2 separate regions of the Homo sapiens genome follow, and region 1 is linked to region 2. The links come from fine-mapping of genetic effects on gene expression. A gene starts in region 2. The other region holds a variant in brackets. All regions are shown on one strand. Distances are from middle to middle. Region 1 holds the start of SMIM18 (small integral membrane protein 18). Region 2 holds the start of GTF2E2 (general transcription factor IIE subunit 2).

What was found. PIP is the estimated chance that this variant, and not a neighbour inherited with it, causes the effect. A credible set is the group of variants that fine-mapping cannot tell apart.
Region 1: its variant is the best candidate, but not a certain one, in a credible set for the expression of GTF2E2 in spinal cord (GTEx, PIP 0.64).

Annotation. Positions count from the first base shown.
Region 1 is chr8:30,634,538-30,639,924 of GRCh38, forward strand. It overlaps GTF2E2 (general transcription factor IIE subunit 2), which reads right to left. Exons shown (of 8, transcript NM_002095.6): 3 at 495-586. It overlaps SMIM18 (small integral membrane protein 18), which reads left to right and starts at 4,043. Exons shown (of 3, transcript NM_001206847.2): 1 at 4,043-4,102. The variant G/A (reference allele first, on the strand shown) is at 3,046.
Region 2 is chr8:30,655,143-30,660,529 of GRCh38, forward strand. GTF2E2 (general transcription factor IIE subunit 2) reads right to left here and starts at 3,094. Exons shown (of 8, transcript NM_002095.6): 1 at 2,831-3,094. RefSeq lists enhancers at 1,623-2,294, 2,966-3,637 and silencers at 2,679-2,768, 2,779-3,188.

The sequences.
Region 1 (5,387 bases), 21 kb before region 2:
TCAAACATTAAATTCTAATTCTTTTGTGAGTCAATGTTTTTCTAAGACTCTCAGTAAATGTCTAATTTTCTCCTCCAAGATGCAGAGAAGCCATCACCATCATCTGCCTGAACTATGTACTTTTTACTTCTCACATCAATGGAAGTAATAACCTGAAAAATCAATCACATCCTCCCATTGGTTTTGCCAGCCTGTATTCATTAAGAGGTGATATACCTACTGCCTAGGCACACTCTTATTAAGTGAAATGGTGAGCTTAAACTGTACCCTTGAGTTAATGCAGATTAAATATGCTTTGGTAACTCGCCACAATGCCAAATTAATACAATGTAAAAGGCTTGAGGTATAATTGGCATACAATAAACTGCACATACTGAAAATGCACAATTTTGATAAATTTTGATGTATACAGAAATTTAACTTCTGAAAACCCTAATCTCCTTCTTTTGCCAAAAAGTTAAATAGGACTTTTGCTATCTGAGAAAAGTACTTACCTTCATGTAATTCACAATCTTAGCAAGAACACCAAACTTATATCCAGAGCTTCCTGACAAAGCTTTCAAGTTAAATGATCCATTGCTATGATCTGCAAATGAAGTTCAAAATAACATCGTCATATTATGTGTGATTATGACTCTTGAGCAGCTAAAATAATTTTAATGCTGGTAACATATTTCTTGAGTTTTTCATCTAGTATATTCTACCCTGTAATATTCTGGTGAAAAATACACAATCTTTGAGTATATACATTAAAGTACCAATTTTCTCACTAAGGGTAGAAACAAAGTATAAATAACTTAAAACACCAAACCACAATTCTTTTATAAATATCTTTATCACATTATTTTTTATTATATTTTTTGAGACAGGGTCGCATTCCCATTGCCCAGGCTGAAGTTCAATGGCACAATCACAGCTCACTACACCCTCAACTTCCCAGGCTCAGGTGATTCTCCCACCTCAGCCTTCTGAGAGGCTGGGACTACAGGTGCACACCACCATGCCTGGCTAATTTTTTTATTTTTTGTAGAGATGGGGTTTCGCCATGTTGCCCAGGCTGGTCTCAAACTCCTGGACTCAAGAGATTCACCCATCTCAGCCTCCCAAAGTGCTGGGGTTACAGGTGTGAGCTACTGCACCAGGCCCCTTTCTCCTTTATCTCATTCTTATCTTAACTCTGATTAGACTCGCTCCATAATCAGAAGTACACTTTATTAAACAAGGAAACAATACAAACCTCAATCCCATCCATAAAGCTAACACAAGGAGTGGATTACTTCTGAGGGAAGAAAAGTTCAATATACCACTTTTTACATCAATTTCTGCTTACCAATTTAAGACCAAAAAAATAGGAATTAATGGAAACTAATAGAAAAAAGATATCACAATTATTTTAAAGTAAACTTTACAGATAAATTAGGAATAAAAAGCCACAGGCACTGCCACTGCATGAACATGGATGCTTACTTTAAAAAGCATCACAGCACTACCCACCCACTTTGAGAAACACCCCCCTCTCCTTCTCTATCTGGTGTGGAAAACCCTGTACAAAAGATCATTTGTTTCAAAATATCTATCATTTTGTTGCATTCTTACAAGCAGAAACCCTAATGTCACCACTGCATCACAAATGCATTCCATTAGTCATAACCAGGAACAGTAAAAAATCCATCATAAATACTAGAAAAACATTTTAGAAGTACACATTCTATTAGCAAGGCATGAGATCAGATATTATAAAGTTCCCATGTGGCTGATCCACAAAGAGAGAGGTTAAGTAAAAGGGGAGAGGAGAACCAATCTCTGGCACCAGGTTGGTAATAATAATTTAAACAAAAGATTGCATTAGAACAACCACAAGTCAAATGTAACAACTGTCAGAGATCCAAAAGAACAGCTTCTAGATGGCAATACCATACTCCTTTGAGATTAGTGAAGTCTTTATTGAGTATCCTTTTTTGAGACTAAAATGAAACTTCATATGCAATTTTCCTTTAAAACTAACTTTGTTACAATCTTAATTAATTGGCACACTGAAGTCTACCATGTTTCCAAAAGTAACAATAACATTAAGAATGCCTTACAGTTGGGAAGCCCAGGTGGGCAGATCATGAGGTCAGGAAATCGAGACCATCCTGGCCAACATGGTGAAACCCCGTCTCTACCAAAAATACAAAAATTAGCTGGGCATAATGGCACGTGCCTGTAGTCTCAGCTACTTGGGAGAATCACTTGAACGAGAGAGTTGGAGGTTGCAGTGAGCCGAGATAGTGCCACTGCACTCCAGCCTGGCAACAGAGTGAGACTCCGTCTCAAAATTAAAAAAAAAAAAAAAAAGAATGCCTTATAGGTGCTTTTCCATTCACTGTTTCAATTATGAAATATTACCTACGTAGTTCATTCTCCCAAGGTGTTCAGCACATCTGTAATAAAAGTAACCAATATTTATTATCTGCTAAACACTATGGTAAATATTCATACGTAATCCCTCCCAAAAAATCCAACTTAAGAAGTATTACTGTCCCCTTTTAAATATAATAAAATTGAGGGTAGTAAGCAGCAGAGTATAGATTCAAATCCAGTGTAAACCCTGTAATAAACAGCCTTTACACAGATTATTCCATCTGAAACTGGCCATTTTGTCAAAGTACAGAAATCTGTGACTGCACATTTAATGCTTGTTTAAGTAAAATAATATTAAGCTTACCCCACGCAACTGTATAAACAACTGGGAAGACTATGAAAAAAGAGATGACAATGTGTTAAGGACAAACACCACACAAATGGCCAATTATGAATCACAAACAGTTGTGCTTATGAGACATGATGCTTATGTCTCTGGCATCTACTACTAACTCAATGTCAAGCTTAGTAAACACTCAATAAATATTTGTTGAATGAATGACTATAATACAGATATTTCTATGCATTCCTTTATGGCCCCAGAAACTAATGTACCAATTCATCTATAATTTTATTTTATTTATTTTATTTTATTTTATTTGAGATGGAGTCTCACTCTGTCGCCCAGGCTGGAGAGCAGTG[G/A]TGTGATCTCAACTCACTGCAACCTCTGCCATTCGGGTTCAAGCAATTCTCCTGCCTCAACCTCCTGAATAGCTGGGATTACAGGAGACTGCCACCGTGCCTGGCTAATTTTTGTACTTTAGTAGAGATGGGGTTTCACCATCTTGGCCAGGCTGGTCTTGAACTCCTGACCCTGTGATCCACCCAACTCAGCCTCTCAAAGTGCTGGGATTACAGGCATGGGCCACCGCTCCCAGCCTTCATCTATAATTTTAAAAAAGAAGTCTACATAGCATGTACCTGGTCTGCTGCTGTTGTTAACAGCCACTCCCATAATTAAAAACCTTCATTCTGTTGTGCTTAGACCATAACTCTAAATAATACACAGTAACTAAAAATACTCTGTCTCTAAAGAGCCAACCTGGAGATCACTTTGCCATTTACATTTTAGAGACTATTTTTTGAATGCAGGTAGTGTATTTACCTAAATGAGCCCTCTTCCAACTTGCAGAGCTAAAAGCCAATTATTTTCCTTCATAATTCCTCCTAAATCAAACCACCACATGGAAATAATCACTTCCAGAGTGCAAAAATTATATACGGAACAAGTAATGAAAGAAAAGGAAGAACAAGAAAAATTTATAAGATTTTATGCACACTTCCTGAAGGAAATATCAGGCTGGCAAACCTGGACTGTTTGTTTCCTAGGTTACTACCTTTCCCGACATTATCTTCCAGCCCTAGCACTGAAGTATTCACTGAAGGATCTGAAATTTTATAATGAAACACTAAAGAATCATCAATTTGTTAGTAACTCACAAATTCCTATATAGGAATTTAGCTTAAGAACAAAAAAATAAAGGAGAAGGGATGACAGTTGATACCCCAGACAGCTCTATTCAAGTTTATGAATGATTTACTCTTAAGGGTGGCAAGACTTAATGCAAATGAACATAGAGGAAACTGTCAGCTCCATTGTGGTTCAACCAATAGAAGCACAGCTCCATCTTGGCTGTGCACTAGACTGCATTACAAACAGACGATACCATCGCTTCAGCAGCATCCTCTCAGACAAGAGGTAGGTTTATATGATCTTTTTTATTTAGTGGTACATGTCCTTATGATGCAATAGGAAAATATTTTACCCTGAAAAATCAACCAGAAAGCTTTGCTCCTACTAAATATCAAGAAAAAGCAATGTATTCGTTTCACCGCTTGGTAGGATTTTATTATGAAAATATGAAGACTGCCTTGTGCTATTTGATAAGCACCCTTACCATCTGTGCCTTAATGGAAAATTCATTACATTTTACATGAACCTGATCTATATCCAGACCTCAGAGTAAACCATAGCTTTTTATTTTAACTGGTTACTTGCTAATTTCATTTTCTCTGAGCGATTTCATTTCTGCAGTTTGGTCTGTCTTAACAAAGGATTTTTCTTAAAGAAAAACCCAGATCAAAAGCGAATTCCAGACTAAAGCTTTCTGATTCTATGTGCAAATGATATTGGCTGCTAAAAAATAGTTACTTATAAGAAAGTTTGTTATATTTTTTAGAATATGAGAAAATAGTTCAAAATTATTTTTATTTTGCTTTGAATGTAGATGCAGAGAATGCCAAGAAATTATCACAATTTTAATTTTTATATAAAAGATCATAAAAGGTATCACTATATGGGCTGCATTATACTACACTGAACAGATAATTTATACAGCTTCAGACTTCCTTAACATTTAATTAAAGTATTTCTTCACTGTGAAATTTCTCTCTCGTAATATAAAGTCATGCTATTAAACAAAAACCTTCTTAAATAGCCTTTCATTTTTGATATCAATTTATCACACCATTTAAATATAATGTTGAAGTCATTCTTAAACTGATCCTCAAAATAAATACAAAGTAAGTCCTTTTGATAAACTGCATTTTAAAATAAAAATATGTCCTAAGAAGAACTGGTTAAGAAAGGAGAGTAAGTACCTTTCTAGGTAACAAGATTATCTTCGTGGCTCAGAGCAATCATTCATGTCTATTAAAAATTAATATTAACTGCTGACCAAATTTCTAATTTTATACTATTCAAGCATGAAAATTTAGTTATTTACTAGATGTTAGAACTCCATCTATATACTATATCGGACCTAAAGAGCCAGCTTCTGTCCTTTTACCTTGCTGGTAAGTTTATTTAATCTTTAAAGGGTTTTTGTTTTTTTTTTCTTCATAATTTCTATTCCTTTTCTTAGTCGGCATTCAGCTAGCCTGAGCAAAGTATCCCCTGCAAAACCCAAAGGTTGCTGTAATAAGATACTAGATCTGTCCAGGTTCAGCACAGTGGGGTTAATTATCTAGAAACCATTTGTGCT
Region 2 (5,387 bases):
GCTGAGATCCCGCCACTGCCCTCCAGCCTGGGGGATACAGCAAAACTCTGTCTCAAAAAAAAAAAAAAAGTCTACAGAAAATTTCCAATTTGGAGGGAGGTGGTTTGAGGCAACTTCTATGTTGTGGTTGTTGTTTGTCTAGTTCTAAAATTACAACTCAAAGCAATTTCACTACAACCAGGGAAGCTACAGGTCAACCAACAAGAATTCTAAACACACCTCTCTTCTGAACTCTGCTAGAACCCTACAGAGGGTCTATGAAGACCTCAAGCTGACTATATAAATGAATTTGACACTGTTAAGACTAGTGTCAGCTGGGAGGAAAAAGACTCATACTTTGAAAGCTTTTAAGCACAGATAGCTCAATAAATATTTGTTAAATGAACAACACATGGAACATCATCTTTAAATTGCTCTGGTCCCATTATTACTGGTTTCACAAGCCTTTATTAAATATCTTGTTTGTGAGGCACTGTGCTCTAAGCTTTGAAAGGTTACGGAAGATAAATCCTTGTCTACATGCTGCTTAGATTTGAGAAAATGGAAGCATTGAGCTAAAAATTTTAAATATAAGCATTGATAAGAAATAATCAGACTGAATTTCAATTAAGGCGTGAACAATCACTGGACGGTGAATCAAAAACCTGCCTTCTCTCAGTTTCAATTTTTTTTTCTTTTTTTTTGAGACAGAGTCTCGCTCTGCCGCCCAGGCTGGCAGAGTGCAGTGGTGCAATCTCGGCTCAATGCAACCTCCGCCTCCTGGGCTCAAGCGATTCTCCTGGCTCAGCCTCCCGAGTAGCTGGGACTACAGGCGCGCAGCACCACGCCCCGCCAATGTCTGTATTTTTAGTAGAGACGGGGTTCATTCACCATGTTGGCCAAGCTGATCTTGAACTCCTGACCTCAAGTGATCCGCCCACCTCAGCCTCCCAAAGTGCTTAGATTACAGGCGTGAGTCACCGCACCCGGCCTCAGTTTCAATTCCTAAAGCCACCTGGCTAGGCAACCCACAAGGCCTCTACATTCAATTTCATAAGTGAAATGAGGACGCTATGAAAGCTGTCCACATCCAGCCCAATTGTAAGAATGAGAAAATGTGTATGTTATTTTTTAAACAGTAAAGTCATAAAAACGTGTTATTTCAGTATTACTATTTTGAGTTGGATCTGAAAGAAGGGAATGATTTACCGGGCTGAGGAAAGTAGGAGACAGCCTTGGGAGGAGGGAAAGCGTGGGGCCAAGAAGAAGAAAGGAGAATTGTCAAGTGAGAAGGTGGGAGCAAAAAGTAAATTTCTAGAACAGGAAACATTTGTGTCTTATTTCACGTTGCAAAGGCAGGACCTCAATCTGGACTTTAAAAAAATTACTCTAAAAGATTTAAATAGGCCGGGCGCAGCGGCTCACGCCTGTAATCCCAGCACTTTGGGAGGCCGAGGAGGGCGGATCACGAGGTCAGGAGTTCTAGACGAGTCTGGCCAACATGGTGAAACTCCGTCTCCATTAAAAATTTAAAAAATGTGCAGGGTGTCGTTGCGGGTGCCTGTAATCCCAACTACTTGGGAGGCTGAGGCAGGAGAATCGCTTGAACCAGGGACGTGGAGCTTGCAGTAAGCCAAGATCGCGCCACTGCACTCCAGCCCGGGCGACAGTGCGAGACTCCGTCTCAGAAAAAAAAAAAAAAAAAAGTAAATAAAGCCGTACAGTTTACAACAAACTAAATGCTTACAGTATTTGACCCTCGCAACTCTAGGAGCAAACAGGTATTAGTGTTATTCCTATTTTAATACGTGAAATCTGAAGTGAAGCTGTCTGGTTAAGGTCGCACAGATGGAAGAGCCAGGGCCAGGAACCAAACCTCCTGACTCCTAACTCAAGTGCTCCTTACACCAGACCTGGAACGCTGGTAAAGGCCTTTAAAACAAAGGCCACCTGTGAGGTTCGGGAACGTTCAAAGGCATCTAGAGCAGAAAGCTTCGCAATGTCTGTCTTTCACCATCACGTGCTCCGCCTAACTTTTCCTCCTTTTTCAAAGACTACCCAATATGTGTACTAAGTTTTAGATCTCTGGACCCCCCTATGGAGTAAACAGGCTACATCACCATGTCCATTTTACAATTAAACAAAACCACAACTCAAGGAGTTGGCTGGTTCCTCCGTGGGCAGACACGGAAAACCCAAAAATTAAACTGAAATCTGCCTCCAAGCCCACGATTCTTGCCACCATTCGACCTCTTTCAACCTTACTACTTCCCCTCTCTTTCACTTTTACCCAGCCTCGTTAGTGTCCCTGGCACCTCAGGACCCGGCTATGAAAAGCAGGCTGCTTCGCCCTTAAATGACGGAAGTGGGGAGGTGGGCGAAAAGGGGGCCGCAGCGTTGTTTAGACTGCAGAAATCAACTACTATCGTTAAAGTTTAGGGATCATCACAAACCAAATCTCCAAAAGGTAGCCTAGAAAGCAGTCCGCGTATGAGCATCATTTTAAATCACAGTCTTGAGCTGGCTGGACCCCGCGGCTGCTCAAACTCCACACACGGTTCGCTTGGCTACCGCGCCCGTGAACTTGGAGGCTTGGAAGAGGCACAGTCAGGCGGCAGACCGCGAATTTTCCCTCTTTCCAACCCAAAAGTTTGCTCAATGAACCTCTGGCCTAAAGACAATGCTCCGGGGAACGGTTCGCGTGCTGGGTGTTTCGCTTCGAGAACGGCGGTCCCAGCTTCCCGTGAGGTGGAGGTCACGCTCAGCCTCCCGGGAGGCGGCGGCGCGCCTGCGTCCCAGGGAACAGCAAGCCGGGGCTCTGCGCCCCACACCCGGCGGCCGCAGCCCCTACCTGAGTGAGAAGGGCAGCCTCGCACGACTCGCCGCCCCCTTCCTGCGCCTCCGCCTCGGCCGGCCGCCCACGCCGGCACTGCACCCTCTTCCTGCTTCTCGTCAGCGCCCCCGCCTGCCCGCACGCACGCCCAGCGCTGACCCGCCAGGTCGGGGTCTCACCACTGGCGGTGGCGGCGGCGGCGGCGGCAGCGGCGGTAGCTGAGGCGGCGACTGGACCCGGGACTCCGCCCGCCACTTCCCGATCGGGTGCTAGGAGCTCAGTCCCGGCAGCCACCGCGGCGCCAGGGCAGCCAAGCGAGCGCATGCGTCATTGCGTGCCCCGCCTCTGGTGCCGCGGGAGCGGAACTATCCCGCTCTGGCGTCCTGGGGCCTCCATGACAACGAGGGAAGGGCTGGGGTGGGGCCGAGAAGGGGACTGAAGTGGGAGGCGGCGCCACTGAAGATGGAAGGCAGCTTTCTTTATAGACACTTTATTAAAACTGCTACAGCCTGCTCCGGCGTGCGCTGGGATGTGGTGAACCCAGCCGACGACGCTATCTTTCAATGGTTACTTTGTGTTTTTTGTCTTTTTCTTATTAGAGACGTGATCTCACTCGGTCACCCAGGCTGGAGGGCAGTGGCGCGATCTCGGCTCACTGCAACCTCCGCTCCTGGGCTCAAGCCATTCTCCCACCTCAGCCTCCGGAGTAGCTGGGATCACAGGCGAGTGCCACCACGACGGACTATTTTTGGTTATTATTGTTGTTGTTGTTTGTATTAATAGGGTCTCACAATGTTGCCCAGGCTGGTCTCGAACTCCTGAATTCAAGCGATTTGCCCGCCTCGTCTTCCCAAAGTGCTGGGATTACAGGCGTGAGCCACCGCGCCCGGCCTCAACGGTTATTTTGTGAGTTTACCCCAGCGCCACACACCAGCACCTGCACACCGAGAACGCGGTTCCAGCTCTTTTACAAGCGAAGAACAGAGGGCCAGGAAGCTAATTAATAAATGACTTGCTCAAGACAACACAGCTAGCAAAGGCAGCCTGATGTGGAGCACAGCCCAGCCTCTTCCCTCCACCCCTGTGAACTGTCTTAGAAAAGGATTTTGGATTTAGAAGCCAGATAAATGGGTGGAAATAAAGCAGTGGAAAAAATAATTTCATTGCCCGAAACCTGCAGCGTGGCAGGCCTTCCCTCACTCTTATAACCTAAAGCGGCAGTACAGCCAGTGCTCAGCCATTCTGTGGCTGTCGTTGAATTACTGGTTACTCTTCAAGTTACTGAAACTGTGGCTCAGTTTTCTCATCGGGGAAATGGGGATAATCATTGTACTACTACAATGAGTTACTTGCATTGGACTGTGGTGAAAATTAAGTGAGAAAATACCTAAAATTTTATTCAAAACTTGGAAAAAAGTCAAAAGATAATATTTTGTGACTTTTATTAGTTTCATTCTAGAGAATTTTGTAATAAGCCTACTTGATCATCTGACACCCACAGGAAATGTAACTTTGTTTGAATAACAATTGATTAGGGCCCAGAAGATTTACAAAAGGATGAAATCAAACATCAATTGGTAGGAAACTGATGAGGTGTTAGGGGAAAAAGGGGCAGGGAATTCAGTGTGTATATAGATAGATAGATAGATAGATAGATAGATAGATAGATAGATAGATAGATAAAATTCCAAAGGTTAAGGTTGCATTTTTCTGAGAAAAATTAACCGGTTTTGTATCAACTGAGCAGTTTTATTTCAGCATTCCTTTCCCCAACGATTATATAAATATCATTTTTCAGAACTGGTAGAAATCCGTTTTATGATTCTGCTGGCTCCCTTATTAATGAGTGAGAGACTTATACATATGGACAATGGCTAAACCGCATATGATAATAACACTCTAACTCACATAAGCCAAACCATAACCTCTACAGCAATCAGCTCAAAATGGTCAGAATTTTCTCAAGAAGGCTGCCAACTTTTCTATTTTAACCTCTCTGTCCTCAGACACCAGTATCAGCCAGAGAAAGCCAAATATTCTTCCCAAACCAATCCTGTTAAGTTTCCTGCTTCAAGTTAGACAACTTCCAGCTTCCCCTGCCAACATCCCTAAATCAGAACACATCAGAAGCATCCCTTTTTTCCTCCACTGTAAAGTCTCCCCTCTTCCCGATTGCTTTTGAGTCTCTGCCAAACTCAAGTGTGGTCGCTGCCCCTATTGCTATAGCAAGCTCTGAATAGTCTCTGTTCTCACTTGGCAGGTCTACATTTCTTGCGTTAAATAAAACTTTGACACATATTCACTATCTCTTCCCTTGAGACTTAGAAATCTAACAATTAGAGAATCTTTACAGAATTAAATCTTTCACAAAGAAGGTGCTCAATAAACGCTTACAGTGAGTAATTTCATGTCAATATCTTGACTCATTTCAGCCAGTTGAAACAGCTAAGCTACTAATAATATCAGAATGTACTATCTATAATCCAGACTCTCAAATCTCAATTGTGTCCCCTTTACCCAGAAGTTAGCTCTTGTTATTAATATCATTGAAACCCTCTCATACAAACCCCAGGAA